2 separate regions of the Homo sapiens genome follow, and region 2 is linked to region 1. Evidence: fine-mapped expression QTL. Tissue or cell type: sun-exposed skin. Region 1 holds a variant in brackets; the other region holds the start of a gene. All regions are shown on one strand. Distances are from middle to middle.

What was found. PIP is the estimated chance that this variant, and not a neighbour inherited with it, causes the effect.
Region 2: it holds the start of CLEC4F, and the variant in region 1 is fine-mapped to the expression of CLEC4F in sun-exposed skin (GTEx, PIP above 0.99). The same link has a PIP of 0.9 or more in unexposed skin.

What each region holds. Positions count from the first base shown.
Region 1 is chr2:70,933,035-70,941,117 of GRCh38, forward strand. It overlaps VAX2 (ventral anterior homeobox 2), which reads left to right. Exons shown (of 3, transcript NM_012476.3): 3 at 1-412. The coding sequence ends at 170. It overlaps ATP6V1B1 (ATPase H+ transporting V1 subunit B1), which reads left to right and starts at 2,866. Exons shown (of 14, transcript NM_001692.4): 1 at 2,866-3,038. The coding sequence starts at 2,921. RefSeq lists enhancers at 5,470-6,310, 6,311-7,150. The variant C/T (reference allele first, on the strand shown) is at 3,586.
Region 2 is chr2:70,815,628-70,823,730 of GRCh38, forward strand. It overlaps CLEC4F (C-type lectin domain family 4 member F), which reads right to left and starts at 4,972. Exons shown (of 7, transcript NM_173535.3): 1 at 4,836-4,972; 2 at 4,148-4,264; 3 at 3,728-3,817; 4 at 367-1,485. The coding sequence starts at 4,896.

The DNA of each region.
Region 1 (8,083 bases):
CCTCAGCGTCCCCCCCACTGCCGCCCCCTCTGCCAGCTGTCTGCTTTTCCTCGGCCCCGCTCCTGGATCTGCCTGCCGGCTACGAACTGGGTTCCTCGGCCTTCGAGCCATACAGCTGGCTAGAACGGAAAGTGGGCAGCGCCAGCAGCTGCAAGAAAGCTAACACTTAAGACTCCCACCCTGTGACACTGAGTCCCGAGCACAGCACCTTCCCAGTCTCCTGTGCCCCAGCGGACAGCACTGAGCAGGCCCCGGAGAGGAGGGGCTGCAGCCACACACTCTTCCCCACCTGCCCCCCAGCTCAGAGACTCGTGACCAAATGGCCTTGGTCCCGCAGCTTGTGTGCGTGAGTGCAGTGTGAGTGTGTGTGTCTCTCACTGAAATAAAAGGAAAACAATGACAAGAAGGGAAATGGTGCCCACAGCACAACTACTTACCCCTCAATCCCTTCTATCCCTCTTGTCACTGGAAGGGAAAATGGGCTTAGAGTCAGAGGGACCTCAGATGGGAGAGGGCAGAAACTGGGATTCTGGGGGTCAGGGGACTCACATGTGTCGGTCAGCAGGCACCTGATTCCCACTCAATAGAAGCCCATGGCACCAACACGAATTCTTTGGTTAAATGTTGCCCTTTACAAGCTCTCTTTCAAACATAAAAATACTTGAGAGAGGGAAACATTGTCACCTTGAAGAGGGTGAATGGTGAAAGGGGAGACCAGGTTGAGAGAGAGGGAGAGAGAGCATCAAAGCTAAACACAAGCAAGAGTCCAGATGTTTAGAGACGGCCTACCCATCACAAACTGCAACATGAAACCCTTTAAAATATCTATACACAGCCTGGCCAACATGGGGAAACTCCATCTCTACTCAAAATACAAAAATTAGCTGGGCATGGTGGCGGGCGCCTGTAATCTCAGCCACTCAGGAGGCTGAAGCAGGAGAATCGCTTGAACCCAGGAGGTGGAGGCTGCAGTGAGCCAAGATCATGCCTCTGCATTTCAGCCTGACAACAGAGGGAGACTCTGACTCAAAAAAAAAAAAAAATATATATATATATATACACACACACACACACACACACACACATACATATTATATATATTTCATATTGCTCAAACAATATAAATTTTTTTAAAGTTAAATAAGAGTCTTGCTCAAGACTCTTTTATTTAACTTTTTATTTTGCAGTAATTATAGATTTACAGGAAGCTGCAGAGATAGGACAGAGAAGTTCCTTCCATTGGCAGGAACTCAATAGTATGAGACAGATAGGCTTCATCTTCCCTAACTATAGTACAATATCAAAACTAGGAAATTGGCATTGGTACCGTGTGTGTGCATAGTGCCATGTCATTTTATAGATTCATGGACTCACTGCTGCAATCCAGATGCAGACCTGTTCCATCACCACAGAGATCTTCCTCATGCTGCTCCTTGATGGTCACACCCACCCCCGCCCTCCACAGGAGAGTTCTTTGAAAGGATGGGCATTAGGAACCAGAGACCTGAAATGGGTCCTCAGGAGGGAGGATGCGGGGTAAGATTTTGACTCTGTGAAGAGAAATAACAAGCACAGTCTCCTCCAGTCTGCTCTGAGAAACATAGTAGCTGCTGCTTTGGTTTCAAATTGGCTGTCCTGAGTCACCTGGAGTGGGTGCTTGGGGACAGTGATCCCTAGGCAAATGTACTTCTGCCGTTCCCTCTGCTCAGTGGTATGGTTTGGGGAGGAGCTTAGAAATGCAGAAATCCTGAGCCTAGAATGAGGCATGGGGGTGACTAGAAGACCTTGGGTTGGGCAGGTCCAGCTACCACCCAGGGTCCACCCTGCCTTGCCCAGAGGAACTGTACCACACTCCACTCACCAGGAGAAACCACAACTCTTAGTTTCATGACATGAAGAGAGAGTTCTTGGGAAGCAGTGGTGAGGTCTTGGGTGGAACCCAGGCCAGGCTGTGCACATAGTTTGATTTATAACTCCAGGTATTTAGTTATACAATACAGGGACCTCCATTTTACTTTCTGACCTGGGCTGGAAAGGTCAGGGCAGGCCTGCTGTATAGAAATCTGGAGGTGAATGTGAGAAGATGAGACACGGTTCTATGATCAGATGGAGAGAGACCAGCCCTCATTCTCAAGAACTCTCAATAGTATGAGACAGACAGGCTTCAGGAGACCCAGGTCTGTGGGTTGAGACACAGGCTCAGCTTTTGGGGGCTCACAGCCCAGTGGCAGGGACAAGAGAGGCCTCTCCTAAAGGGCATGACTTAGGAAAGAGGCTAGATGTGTAGTAAATCTTGGCTGCTAGAGAATCCAGAGAAGGCTTCATGTAGGAGATGGCACTGAGGCTGACCAGGAAATAATTCTCTACAGATGTTCAAAAAGATGACGATGGAATTGTCAGGGGGCAGAAGTATCCAGGTATAGTCAGGGCAAGGAGTGCAGGGTAAGGTCAGGTTGCGAGAACAGTGAAGAAAGGGCAGCCTGCCAGAAGTTGGGTGTGGAGAGACCAGAAAGAGCTGTGGTGAGGGACGAGTGTGGGAATGTTGACAGCACCTGATGGTCCAGGGGAGGAATTGAATTCATACAGTTTGGGGTTGGCGGGGAGGAACCGCCTAGCACAGAAGAAGGAAAAAGCCAGCCCTCCCCTCTTCCCTTCTCCCTCCACATCCTCCAGCTCTCAGGTGACGGGGGCCCCTCCCAGACCTGCACAGCTTGGTGTGGGGAAAGCTTGGGAGCCAGAGCCCCAGGCTTCCTTGTTTACTGTCAACCTAGAGGAGGAGGAGAGGGAGGGGAGGGGGAGAGGGGAGGGGTGGCTGCAGGGGAAGGCTGAGCAGCTCTCTCCAGCTCCAGCTGGACCTGAAGTCTCAGAGCTGCCACCAGCAGCAGGCTCAGACACTGGGCTCCCAGCTGGGGACTGCTCCATGGCCATGGAGATAGACAGCAGGCCTGGGGGGCTCCCCGGCAGTAGCTGCAACCTAGGTGCAGCCCGAGAACACATGCAGGCGGTCACCCGAAACTACATCACCCACCCCCGTGTCAGTGAGTAGCCCCTCCACCGTGACGGGTGAGGTCAGGGTGGGGAGCTGGGGTGGGCTGCCAGGTTCCCGGGCCCCGCTTCTTGCCTCAGAAAAGGAGGAGGACCCAAGACCTGGGGAGACCTGGAGGGCTCTCTGTCCAGCAGAGTGACGCAGTGGGGCCACCTGGACCAGAGGCCACCTCTGCAGGTGAAGGGTTGCAGGTCCCCAGCCCAGCCCACCCCAGAAGAGAGGGCTGGGGAGTAGCTGTCATCAGCCCAATCCTGCTGTAACACCCGAAGTCCAGAGATAGCTTCCAGTTGCCCCTGAGAGTGGGGTGTGCTGTGCACCTGCTCTTGTGTAAACGTGCCTGTGTGAGGAGTGTGCACCCAAGCACTCAGAGTCAGGCGGGGTGTGATTAAGTGTACTTGGAGTGGTGTGTGTGGCAGTGCAGAGTGTCAGCGCTCTCAGCCTGAGGAAATAGGTGCCCCGTGTGCGTCACATCAATGGGTGCATGTCGTATGTGTGTTCTGAGGAGGGTGCCTGTGTGCATAAGCAGGTAGGAGCATGTG[C/T]CTAGGGGGTGCTCCCACCTTCACTTGGGGTAAGGAAATGTGTGACTGCATGCTTATGCACTCAGGGCAAAGGTGTGTGTGTGTGCACTTAGGTGTGATGTACGTGTGTGCATGTGCACTCATGGAGAGAACACTTGTGTATGTGTTCTGGCAGTGTCACATATCTGAGTATGGTGAGTGTGTGTACAGCTGGGATAAGAATGCGTATCCAGGTGTGGGGCATGGAAGTGTCTACAGGTGCTGGGATGTACCCTTGTCAATTTCAGAGGGGAGGCCCTACTTGTGGCTCCTGTGCCTGTCCTGCAAGGGTGGCCCAGATGTCTGGGGCAAGGTCCAGAGGACCAAAGGGAACCCCTGCATCTCCTTGTCCAAGGTCACTCTCCCTGGCCTGGTGAATTCTCAGGCCGCCCTGCTCACTGGAGTAAACCAGCATGGCCCGCCACAGCTATGCAAAGCCAGAGGCTCACTGGAGTAAACCAGCATGGCCCGCCACAGCTATGCAGAGCCAGAGGCTCACTGGAGTAAACCAGCATGGCCCGCCACAGCTATGCAGAGCCAGAGGCTCCTAACAGGGAGTGTGGTGTGAGGGGAAGTGAGCCTGATGCAGCCACCCCACCTCCCTCTGTTCCTCTGTTGCTATCCAGGCCAGGAGAGGAGGTGGAGTGAACTCAGAGGGTAGCTGAGGGGTGAAATCAGAGTAAAGGGGCCCGGGGGCGCATGGGAGGAGAGCCCTGGGGTGTGGGGCACCTCCTGAGGCCTGAGGCAGGTGCTGAGGGTGGAGCACATTCCAGCTAAGAAGAAATGGTGAGAATGGGGTGGGTCAGATTTCTCAAGCAAGGCCTGTAGGCCCTGCCCCATGGAGCTCGGGGGAGGATAGGAGGTCCGGATACTCCCTAGGCCAAAGCTAGGGTCACCAAGGCCCAGAAATATGCAGTGACTGGGCCCCCTTGGGTCCAGAGCCCAGGCCTGGAGCCCTGAGCTGGCATGTGTGACTCTTGCCAGTCTGTTGTGATGAGCCCCACTCCCTGCAGGCCGTCCCTCCTCCCTGCAGGCACCCGGGAGTTGCTGGGTGCTGAGTGTGGTGTGTGATCTGCACCTTCATGCTCTGCTTTCCTTCTTCCTGGAAAGTGCCCCCACCTCCTGATACCCAGGGACCCTATAGGTACCATCTAACCCCACACTCCTCTGGGCAGGTTGGCCCAAGCCTGGAGCCACCTCCAGCCAGCTCTTTCCCACCCAGCCCCTTATGTATAGTCAACATGCCCTGGAGGTTCTGACCCAGGCTGGAACCCAGGGATGGCTGTGCCCGCCCCCCATGTTTGCATGCTTCCCTCGATGCTGGCTCTATATGGCCTCCACCCAGGAGAATGTGTTCACACCAAACAACCCAACAGTGGACCCAGAGCAAAGGTCAGTGCAGGGGAGCCCCTCTAGGCTCTGCTCCCTGCCAGCGCCTTTACTTTTGCTGCCTATCAAGTATCCTCACAGGATGCACCGGGCCAGCCTCAGCCCAGCCCAGATGCCCTCCCACCCCCAGGGGAAGGCTGGGATTCCTTGGTGTGTCCCTTCATCCACAGTGTCTCCCAATCCCCTCCCCGCCTCACTCACTTCCTCCTCAGGCTCTGGGAGTGGGAGGGATGAGGGGGGTGGTTCTCCCTGGGGCCTGTGGACAGGCGCAGGGCTGGCAAGGGTTTGGAAATTTAGGGCTGCACCCTCAGTACGCCAGAGGCAGGGCCACTCTGTCCCTCTCCACCTGTCTCCTCCCCAGCCTGGCCTCCTACCCTGGGTCTGTAAGCACTCCCAGACAGGAGAACTCTGGGAGAAAAGCTGGGGGTGCCTAAGGGCAGGGAGGCCCCAGTGCTCGCTGGGCCACGGTGGAGGTGAGTCCAGGTGACTTAGGCATTCCCCTCCCCCGGGGGAGGTGGGCTAAAGAGGCCTGAGACTTTAAGGCTGATTTCACTGCAGTGGCTGAGAGAGGATTGGCTAGAAAGGAGGAGACACTAGAAAGAGTGGAGGCAGCCTGGGGAGCTGACCCTGCCAACATCTACCTTGGGAAAGAAGGGTCCCCTGTGCCTCCCGTGGAGCTAGAATGGTTCCCCAAGGGCCTTGGCTCCCGGCTGGGGAGGAGGTATCCTGGAGCTTCATCTGTTTGGGCAGAAGATGTTGGGCTTGGAGGGTGGAGGTGCCCAGCAGGAGCAAAGGTCAGGAAGGACAAGCTGGCAGCCTGGTTGGAGGGATGAAGCCAGGTCAGATCCCTGAAGATCCCCCAGGAGCTTGAGTGCCAAACCACTGTCTTTGCCTCCCCACCTCGGTTTCCTCAACTGGAAGGGGAAGGAGTTACACGGAGAGAGTCCCAACAAGCAGGGTCTTGGGCTGAAGAGCCCTCAGCTTCCAGCCCCTGCCCTCCCTCCTCTAATCCCTCCAGCGGGATCAGGGAGGAGGTGCGGGACCTGCTGCCCCGGGCTTGCCCCCATCCCGGCCTCACGCATGGGCGCCTGTCTCAGCCCTCTCCCAGGACGCTGCAGGTGTGGCTGGGCCAGCGCTAATTAGTGGGCCGCGCGGGGGCCCCGCTGAGCCTTTGACAGAAAAGGCGGTAGGGAGGTGGGGGCAGGGAGGCGCTCCACCAGCCAGAAGTCCGGAGCGCAACCCAAAGTGTCAGCTAAGACAATGGAGAGGGGGTGGGCCGGGCAGCTGGAGGGAGTGTCTGCAAAGTCTCTGGAAGGCCCATGGAAGGAGCGCCCTTTGGGTCTTCTGATCCAGCCCTCTGCCTGTGGCAATGCACCCGCTTCCCTCTCCAGGGTCAAGGCGAACATCCCAGGGTTGCAGAGTGGGCCATAATCGCTGAGCGCTGCAGGATACCGTCTTGAACTGTGGTGCGTCCTGCCAGAAACTAGCCCACTTTCTGGGCCTCGTTTTGCCACTCCATGCAAGGGACACACGGAGGTAGGGGCGGCAGTGTACAAACAAAAGGACCGGCTTGCAGTCAAGGACACCTCTGTTGCTCAGCCCCCATTTTGGCTGTGTCCAAACCAAACAGCCTAGAAGAAAAGATCAGGCTGGCTTAACAGGGGAGAGGCAGAGCTCTAAGACATCTGACGGGAGAGACATCCCTCTAGGGTCCCAGTCTGTAGTACCGTGGGACAGCAGTGGGGAGAGGACCCAGTGGGCTGCAGTAGTCAGTCAAGGGCAAGGCCTTGAAGGATGGGCATAGTCCAATGCTGAACAGAAACAGCCGCCTAAGTGGATTATCTGCAATGATGGGTCCAGGCCATGAAGCGATGTGTTCACCCAGAGCCAGGCCTGGAGGCTGCGAGAAGCCCAGGAAGGCAACTCACAGCTGAGGCTGATGTGCTAAGATGTTGAGCTTCGATATCTCACCCCGGTCACCCGAGCGGCCTGGCCGGGGAAGGCATCTGACTCCCAGAGGACCTGCAGCAAGCACTTTGCAGCTGCCTCTAGGCCCCTTCCAGCCCAGCCCTTCCTCCTGAGGGAAGGGCTGTGTGGATCCCCTAATCCTCTGTCCCCCACTCTGCTGCTGCCCCCACTCCCAGGTGGAGTTGCTGGATGTCAGGGCTAATGGGGATTCTACATGACAGGGGCTGTGAAGTGGGGGAGCAGCTGTGAAGGAAGGGAGGAAGTTGAAAGACTTGTCTCCTGAGGCAGTGGAATTAGAAATGATTCCCTGGACTTTTCTGGTCCTTGGGCCCCATCCCCTCCCACACCCCCACCTCCCTATCCAGCCCACCCACCCTGCATCTTTACATCACTGCTTTCTTCCCCCAGCGCAGCCCTTTGGCAGGTGTGGCATGCAAGATGCCAGCTCTCCCGGGGGCTTATAAAAATGAGGGTCTCTCCTGCCTGCCCTGCATCCCTTTGCTTGCACAATCCACTAGCAATCCAGACAATCTGATCCAAACACCATGTGGGTGTGGGAGTGCTGTGGCTGTTTGGAGTTTTTTTTAATTGATGGGAAGGGTAATGCCCAAGCCTCTGTCTCCTACCCTTTCTCGTTGAGGAGTCTTCCTATGCCCAACAGCCCCTTAGCCCAGTACATCCTCTTTCTCTTCTACTCTCTGCCTTCTCAGGAAGTATGGCTGGTGCTAGGGGTGCAACCCTTTAGGCTGGTCAATGGGACTCTCATTTGGTTTGGAGGCTTGGGAAGGTCGGGAGGGGGCACACAATGGTTCTGATGTGGGAAGTATGAGAAGGAGCAGATGGGGTCAGTTAACACCTTTCATAATCCATCCACAAAGATTTCTTTTTCTTCTTTTTTTCTTTTTTCTTTTTCTTTTTCTTTTTTTTTTTTTTTTTTGAGACAGGATCTTACTCTGTCACCCAGGCTGGAGTGCAATAATAGCATGATCAGAGCTCACCGCAGCCTCAACCTCCCTGGGCTCAGGTGATCCTCCCACCTCAGCCTCCTGAGAGCTGGGACCACAGGCACGTTCCACCATGCCCAGCTAATTTTTAAATTTTTCTGTAGAGACGAGGCTTCACC
Region 2 (8,103 bases), 120 kb before region 1:
CAGATGAGAAAAGTGTAGCTCAGAGAAGGTAAGTAACAGGCTCAAGGTCATACCATTTGGGGTATCAGGAAGTCAGAAATAAGGCTGTGTGGCCCACTAGCCCATGCCGTCCTTATCACACACGTGCACCATTTACAGTTGGTTTCCCGTGTTCATTTGGTCACCGTGACCAGGTTATAAGCAACTTGAGAGCAGGAACTTCCCACCTCACACCATCTCTACAACTGCCCAGTTTCCTTGGGCCCATTTCCCTGGATTTGGTCAAGGAGATGCATGTTGCAGTAAAAAAGAGGCTGATGAGATGGAAGACTCTACCCTCTCAAGAGACTGTGCCCTCCCCAAACGCGACTCCCCTCTCCCACTTACTTTGGGTTCTTTGTAGCTGTTCCTGTGAAGTAATGACCACATGGAGGGTCTTCAGGCGACTCTGCTCCTGCTGGATTTCCATGGTTAGAGCTTTGGTGTTCTCTAGATCCCCTCTTAACCTCTGGATCTCGGCACTGGCCTTCTGCAGATTGCTGTCTAACATCTGGGTCTGGGAAGTTAAGGCTGAAGCATTCTTCATTCCTTGTTTTAGGGTCTGTATCTCTCTGCTGGCATTTTTCATATGACCATTTAAGACCTGAATCTGGGCATTTAAGGTATTCACATTTTCCATCTCTGACTTGAATACCTGAATCTGAGTATCTGTCTGGTCCAGACGGCCATTTGCTTTTTGGGTCTGGGCTGTGACCATTTTCAAATCCCTTTTTAACACGTGAATTTCATCACCAGCTCTTTCCAAATGACCTCTTAAGAACTGGATCTCAGCACTAGTGTTGTCAAAACTGCTTTTTATAAAGGCCTGGGTCTGGGAGTTTAAAGCATTTGTGTTCTGCAAATTTTCCTTTAGTCCCTGGATCTCAGCATTGGCTCCTTCCAAACTATTTCTTAAAACCTGGTTCTGGGTCCTCAAGTCATTGACACTATCTAGATGGCCTCTCAAAACATAGATCTCAGCATTAGCGTTCTTTAAACTGCTATTGGCTAACTGAGCCTGGGTATTTGCCGTTTCCAAACTGGCATTCAACATCTGAATTTCAGAGTTTGCATTTTCTAAGCCTCTGCTTAGCACGTGGAGCTCAATGCTGGTGTTTTCTAAACTGCTTTTTAAGAAATTCAGCGTCTGGAAAGTTAAAGCATCTGCCTTTTCAAGGTCTTCCTTGAGCCTCTGGATCTCAGCATTGGTTCCCTCCAGGGAACTCCTTAACATCTGTGTCTGCAAACTCAATGTAGTGGCATCCTTTAGAACTCCTTTTACCATCTGGATGTCAGCATTGGTGTTTCCCAGATGATCACCGAGCACCTGGAGCTGCGAATTGACATTGTCCACTCTGCACTTCAACATCTGGATTTCTACTACCCAGGCACTGGAATTCTCCATGTGGCCTTTAAATGTCTGGATAAGCTCTCGCATTTCTGCCTCCCTGCCAAAGTGGTGATGATCTGGAGGGAGGAAGTGAAGAAGGCAGCCAAAGAGGCCCATTATGTAGGGTAGCATTTTATGGGCCACCCAGAGTGTTTCTAACATTTCCAAGGGAAATGGGTACTGCACAGCCCTCAGTGCTCCCCCAAGCACCCTCCTGGTCACACAGCCACCCAGACCCTGGGGACGGTCCACCTGAGAATGTGGGCCAAGAAACAAAGATCTAATTCACTGTTACACACAAATGAAGGGGTCAGAAGGATTGAAATGCTTGCCTGCTGTAAGCCAGCTGCCACCAGGAGTCATGCTGGTAAGGCTTGGATTATTTTGTCGTTATAATTGCTCAACTTGAAAGTAACTGATTTTATCATTTAGAGCTGTTGAAGTTTAATTTTACTGGAATTTCACCACAGATGGGTCATTATGGGAAAGAAAATAGGTATGAATAAAGCCTGTGGTTAGTCCTACATTATATTTGTACACCAAGCATAGAGCCTCTTGATTCACCATTGTTACTTGATAAAAACCACCACAAACATAAGTTTTATGATGGCAAATTCCATGGAGAAGAAAACACAAAGGAAAGAAACAGAAACAAAACAAAATAGGTGTGCTGGGAGGAAGTACCCTGTTCAATCAACAGGGCTATGATAGAGGCATGCCATGCCCTCCAGGTAACTAACACTGGACCTCAGCTGAGATGGCCTTTTAAAGAGCCAGCACCCCCAGTGTTACATAGGGCAAGGGTCCCTACAGAACAGTTTGAGGATACAGGAAACCTGAGTAAAAGGCCTTGCGCTGGGGTCGTTGAAGGAGACCCCACAGCCCCTTTAATCTGCAAGGTCTTTCCCACCAACCTCACATGCATCTACCTCTGGTCCTGCTAGCATCCTTTGTTCACCTCATGAACTAGGACCTAATCTCACACATCCATGATCCCCTTCTGATTCCAGTCTCCCCTCAGGAATAGGGAGAAAAACCCAAGATGGCAGGGACCCTTTCTGGAGCATCCATGTACTATTTCTCATGCACTGCCTATGTAGATGTGTGAGACCTCAGTTACTGTGCTAAGGTAAGAGAGGGGACCTTTCAAGGTACTGGGAGTTCAGTCAAAGATTCTGCTTTGTAAAGATAGACAAACAAATCAATGCGACAGAATGGAGAATACGGAAGTAGACCCCCACACATATGGACAATCGAATTTCAACAAAGGTGCAAAGGCAATTCACGGAGAAAGATAACTTTTTCAACAAATGGTGCTGGAACAATCAATTTCACACCATTATACAATAATTAACTCAAATGAGGCAGAGACCTAAATGTAAAACTAAAAACCGGGCTGGGCATGGTGGCTCACGCCTGTAATCCCAGCACTTTGGGAGGCTGAGGTGGGCAGATCACGAGGTCAGGGGATCGAGACCATCCTGGCTAACACGGTGAAACTCCGTCTCTACTAAAAATACAAAAAATTAGCCAGGCGTGGTGGCGGGCGCCTGTAGTCCTAGCTACTCCAGAGGCTGAGGCAGGAGAATGGCATGAACCTGGGAGGCAGAGCTTGCAGTGAGCCGAGATCACGCCACTGCACTCCAGCCTGGGTGACAGAGCGAGACTCCGTCAAAAAACAAAAACAAAAACTAAAACTAAAAACTGTACAATTTCCAGAAACAAAGGAGAACATCTTTGTAGCCTTGGATTAGGCAGATTTCTCACATACGAGATCATGAGAATAATCCATAACAGAAATAAAATGATAAATTAGACTATCAAAATTAAAATCTTGTTAGGAGAATGACAAGACAAGTCACAGACTGAGAGAAAAATATTTGCAAATCACATGACTAGCAAAGAACAAAGAGTACATACTCTATGATCTCTTATCTATAAAACTCTAGAAAAAGCAAACTAATCTATAGTTACAGCAAGTAGATCTGTGGCTGCCCAGGGATGAGGAGAGGAAGGGAGAGGAAGGAATTACAAAGAGCCACAAGGAAACTTTGGGGTGAGGAGGATGACTATGTGATGATGATTGTGGTGATGGTTTCAGGGGCACACACATATGTCAAAACTTAACAGATTGTATGCTTTAAATATATACACCATTAGACCTCAATAAAACTGTGTTTTTAAAAAATTATCTCTTTCTGTGAGGATGGTGGAGCCCATTCAGTGGTCAGAGGGTACCAGGAGAGAAGCTCATCCTAGGGTCTGAGCATCTGAAGGCCCCAGTTCCCTCTGCACCCCACCCCCACTGTGGCTACTCACTGTTGGGTTCAAAAGGTAAATGCCCAGTAATGTTGTCTCCCAGAATTACGGCTTGCACAGGCTTCGGAACAGGTCTTGTCTGCTGTTGAACTGAGACATTCCATTTTTCCAGGTCAGCAAATCCCCAGCCCTGAGCCTGGGAGGATACGCTGTCCCACACAGAGGTAGAGTTCCAGAACCGGGGAGATAGCAGCAAAGACCCTCCCAGGGTTTCCCTCATGAACCTCAGTTCTTGGGAGGCTCCCCCTTGGACAGTGGCCTTTATCTGTTCCCAGGGAAGCTGTGGCTTGGGCCTGGAGCTGGAGGTGGAATGATCTTTCTGGGAGCAGAGAGGCCCAGAGAGTGTGCATCTGGGGCCCCTGGGGACTTTGTGCTGAAAGGAGAGAAAGTTAGTGAGATTTGGGTCACCTGGGGGCTTACCCACTACAAAGAGAGTCACAAGAGAGAAGACCAAGGTCACAGCCATAAATGCCGGGGTAGCCTGAACGAGCCTCGGTATCTTGGGGGCTGCAGGAGCCATTGCCACAGAGTCCACCTCTGCAGGGGAGAAGGCAGTGTCCAAGGTGAGAGGGTGCTGTGCAAGGTAAGAGGGTGCTGTGCAGGCTGAGACACAGCCTCTCTGATTCTGTTTCCTGGGTTGTCTAATGGGGATGATAACTCCTGCCATGCTTATCATGCAGGTGGTTATGGAGAAGGAAGACAAAACACTTTGGGCTGTTCACCAGAGCTAGATGTGGATATGGTAGCAACACAGAGCTGAGGAGCTCTGAGACCGAGACCACCGATCTCCAAATCTCAAGGAGGCTTTGGTGGTGCACAGGGCACAGAACCTGGCACAGAGCACAGAGCAACAAAAGTGTAGTTTGAATGAAAGAAGAAAGGAAGGGAGGGAGGCCTCACAGGACCAGCTCAGTGTGCAGAGCCGGGATTCCAAGCCAGGACCATCTGAATTCAAAGTTCATCCCCTTTCTCTTGCCAGGTCTGCATCCCCAAGGACAAGGGTCTGGGGAGAGCAATAAGACAGCAATAAGCTGCCTTATGGCAGAGGGCCAAAGGACAGGCAGGCTACTCCCTCACTGGGCAAGAGCTGGGGCCCCAGTTTTCTCACCTTGGGGGTGCAGGGAGACACACTGGTTATCTGTGCAGAAGCGGACTGCCTCACCGTCCATCTCTGCTTCCTTGATCCTCCAGCACTGCTCCCAGCCACTGGCTCCTGGAAGGGCCGTCCCGTGGACCAATGGCAGTGGAAGCAAAGCTGAGACACCCACACTTATATGCTCCTGACCACCCTCCCAGCTCTTCCTCCCTCCCTGCCTGACTCTGCAGAAACCCGCCCCAGTGGGCCCCTCCCCTAGAGGCTCCCAGATACCCATCTGCCCTATTTTCTTCCTCTTCCCATTAGCACCTTCCCGTCAGTTCTCAGCCCCATCATCCCAGCCTCTGCCGCATCCAGCATAACCCCAAACACACCTCTTCTTCTCTGGGGGCTGGGACTGGCACCTAGGAAGGGGGTCTCAGCTTTGCACAGAAAACATCCTTATGACTATGGCTGACCTTTAATTCTAGCCTCAGAACCTCTTAAGTAAAAGGAGTCAGGTAAAAGAGGGGCCAGGTCAGTGCGGCCGATATTTGCAGGTCAAAGGAGGAAGCGGGGTGACCAGCCACTTGGGGACTCACAACTGAATTATAGTATACAGGAGGATGTGCGGAGGTTATATAAAAATACTACATGATTTTGTACAAGGGACTTGAGCATCTGTGGACTTTGGTACCCATGGGAGTCCTGAAACAAATCCCCTGCAGATACCAAGGGACAACTCTGTAAAAAATATATCTGGTCTTCATCTCAGTTCCTGACACAGAACTCCTAAAACGCTTAGAGTTTCCTGGGTGACAGGAGTGTTTTTTGTTATTCATAATAAGCCCCTTAGGACTACACTTGGGTTTATGCTAATGAGGTGACACAGGGTGGACCCTTAGATAATTTCAGGCTGGAGGCTGGTCCCAGAAAGACCAAACATGGGATTAGACTTTGGAAGACTGGGACTTTCAGCCACCCACTCCCATTCCCTACTCCCAGACCTCCAGGTATGGGAGATGGCCTGGGGTCTGGGCTATAACGACTCTTAAAAAATGAGATTCAAGGAGCTTAGGGATTGGTGATCCACATGCCAGGAGGGTGTCATGCCCTGACTCCACAGAGACAGAGTCTCCTGCACTTGGGACCCCACTGGGCCTTGCCCTGTGTACCTCTTCATCAGGCTGTTTTTGTCCTTTACAATAAAAGAATAGGAAGTACAGTGTTTTTCTGAGTTCTGTGAATTGTTCTAGTGAATTATGAAAACTGAGAGGTTGTTGCAGAAACCCCCTAATTTTTTGTTTGAGACAGGGTCTCCCTCTGTCACTCAGGCTGGAGTGCAGTGGTACGATCATAAGTCAATGCAGCCTTGAACTCCTGGACACAAGTGATCCTCAGTTCTCAGCCCCAACATCCCAGCCTCTGTCACATCCAGCATAACCCCAGCATAACTGGGACTACAGGTGTGTGCCAACATACCTGGCTAATTTTTTATTTTTATTTTTTTGTAGAGATGGGATCTCTTTTTATACCCCAGGCTGGTCTGGAACTCCTGGCTTCAAGTGATCCTCCCACCTCAGCCTCCCAAAGTGCTGGGACTACAGGCATGAGCCACCTTGCCTAGCCAGAACCCCCAAATTTGTAGTTGACCAGGCAGAAGTGGGGTCACTACCTCACTTGTAGCTAGCATCTGAAGGGGGGCAGTCTTGTGGGACTGAGGCCTTACCCTGTGAGATCTGTGCTAACTCTGGAAGTTAGTGTTAGAATCTGTTTGAATTGTTGGATGCCCAGCGGGTGTCAGAGAATCGGCTGGTGTCAGGAAAAAGCACACATTTGGTGTCAGAAGTGGTGTCAGAAAATACCAAGCAGGCCCCAACTTTAGCTGATTGGATCCATGCCTCCTGAGGTGACCAGGTTCTCAAGACTAACTCCAAAGAATCTGATGGAGCAGGCTGGGGCCAATGTGTGGCTTTCAATGAGCCCTATCCCTTCCAGGAGGAACAGATACTGCTTCAGGGGTTCCTGCTGCTGGGTGGGCCTAGCATTAGAAGAGAAGGCATGAGGCATCCCAGTGGACAGTGCCATGGAGCTGTGCAAACGTGATGTCCCTGTCCCTGCCACAGGGGTTACCAGCTGAACAGAACCAATATTCCCATGGCTGGTCAAGGAACCCCTCTAAAAGCCAGTGCTGGGGTTACCAGCAGATTCCTGTTCTTTGGTTCCTTCTTGTCTCCATTACTTCAAACGGTCACAATCTTTTTGAAATAAATCACATTTTCTTTCACTTTGGAAAGTCTAATTACATATTACACCATCATAGCAACTCTTAAACAAACTCACAACCTTGCAAATGGCTTGTTCCATCCATGTTGTGTTGTTTCTTTGCTACTTTCACCCTCTGTTCCTATGTCCCATTCTCATGTCTTTTGCACAGATCCTGGGGTCAGCCTCTTATAGGTCCCCAGCTGCCAACTAACAACACTGCAGACCAACCACAAAGGTGGAGAAGCCACACGGAACGTGCCTCCTCTGAGGCCGGGCCAGGAGAACAGCTTTGGCCCAGGAGGAGCCTGTGCCATGCGTGGCTGATGTCAACCCGGCAAGCAAGTCGCCCCGTGGGTAGGGGATCTGCAGACAGGAAGGGAGCGGTTGCCCACACCCAGTTCATGATGGTGGGGGTGTGTGTGTTTGTGTGTGTGTGTGTGTGTGTTGAACTGTGCAGTGTTAGGGGCCCAATGTGTAGAGTGCAGAGCCACCATTTGCTGCCTTTTACCTCCTGTTTGTTGAAAACTGACCTTAGAGAGGAGGGCACAGCAGGAATGAAGGGTGAAGGCACCTATTTCTGGACTATCAACAGCGCTGCCTGAGATCCCAGTGGTGTCTGCCAGACTCCTTCACCGCCACATAGAATGGGATGGAAGCTGCTGGAGGTGCCTCCCTAGAGGCCCATCAGACACCCAGGGCTGGTGGCTGAAAAGAAAGGGCTTGTCTTGGTTTCTGTTTCCCCATACACAGGAAGGGCCCAGGCTGGACCTACTCAGGACCTATTTCCTCCTGAGGCCTGAGAGCTGAGGGAACCTCGAAGGCAGAACTCTACGGATCCCTTGCCCAACTGGAAGGTCAGAGTCTGGGCCAGGAGAGGGGCATAGTTCTTCCCTGGCCTCCCCACCCACCCTCCGGGCCCTAGCTCTTCTATTTCCCACAGGAACACCATCTACCAGCAGGGCAGAAAAACCAGGGGGTTGCTATGTCTTCACTGAGAGGCTTTCTGTTCTCTGGCCAGACAAAAACAAATGGG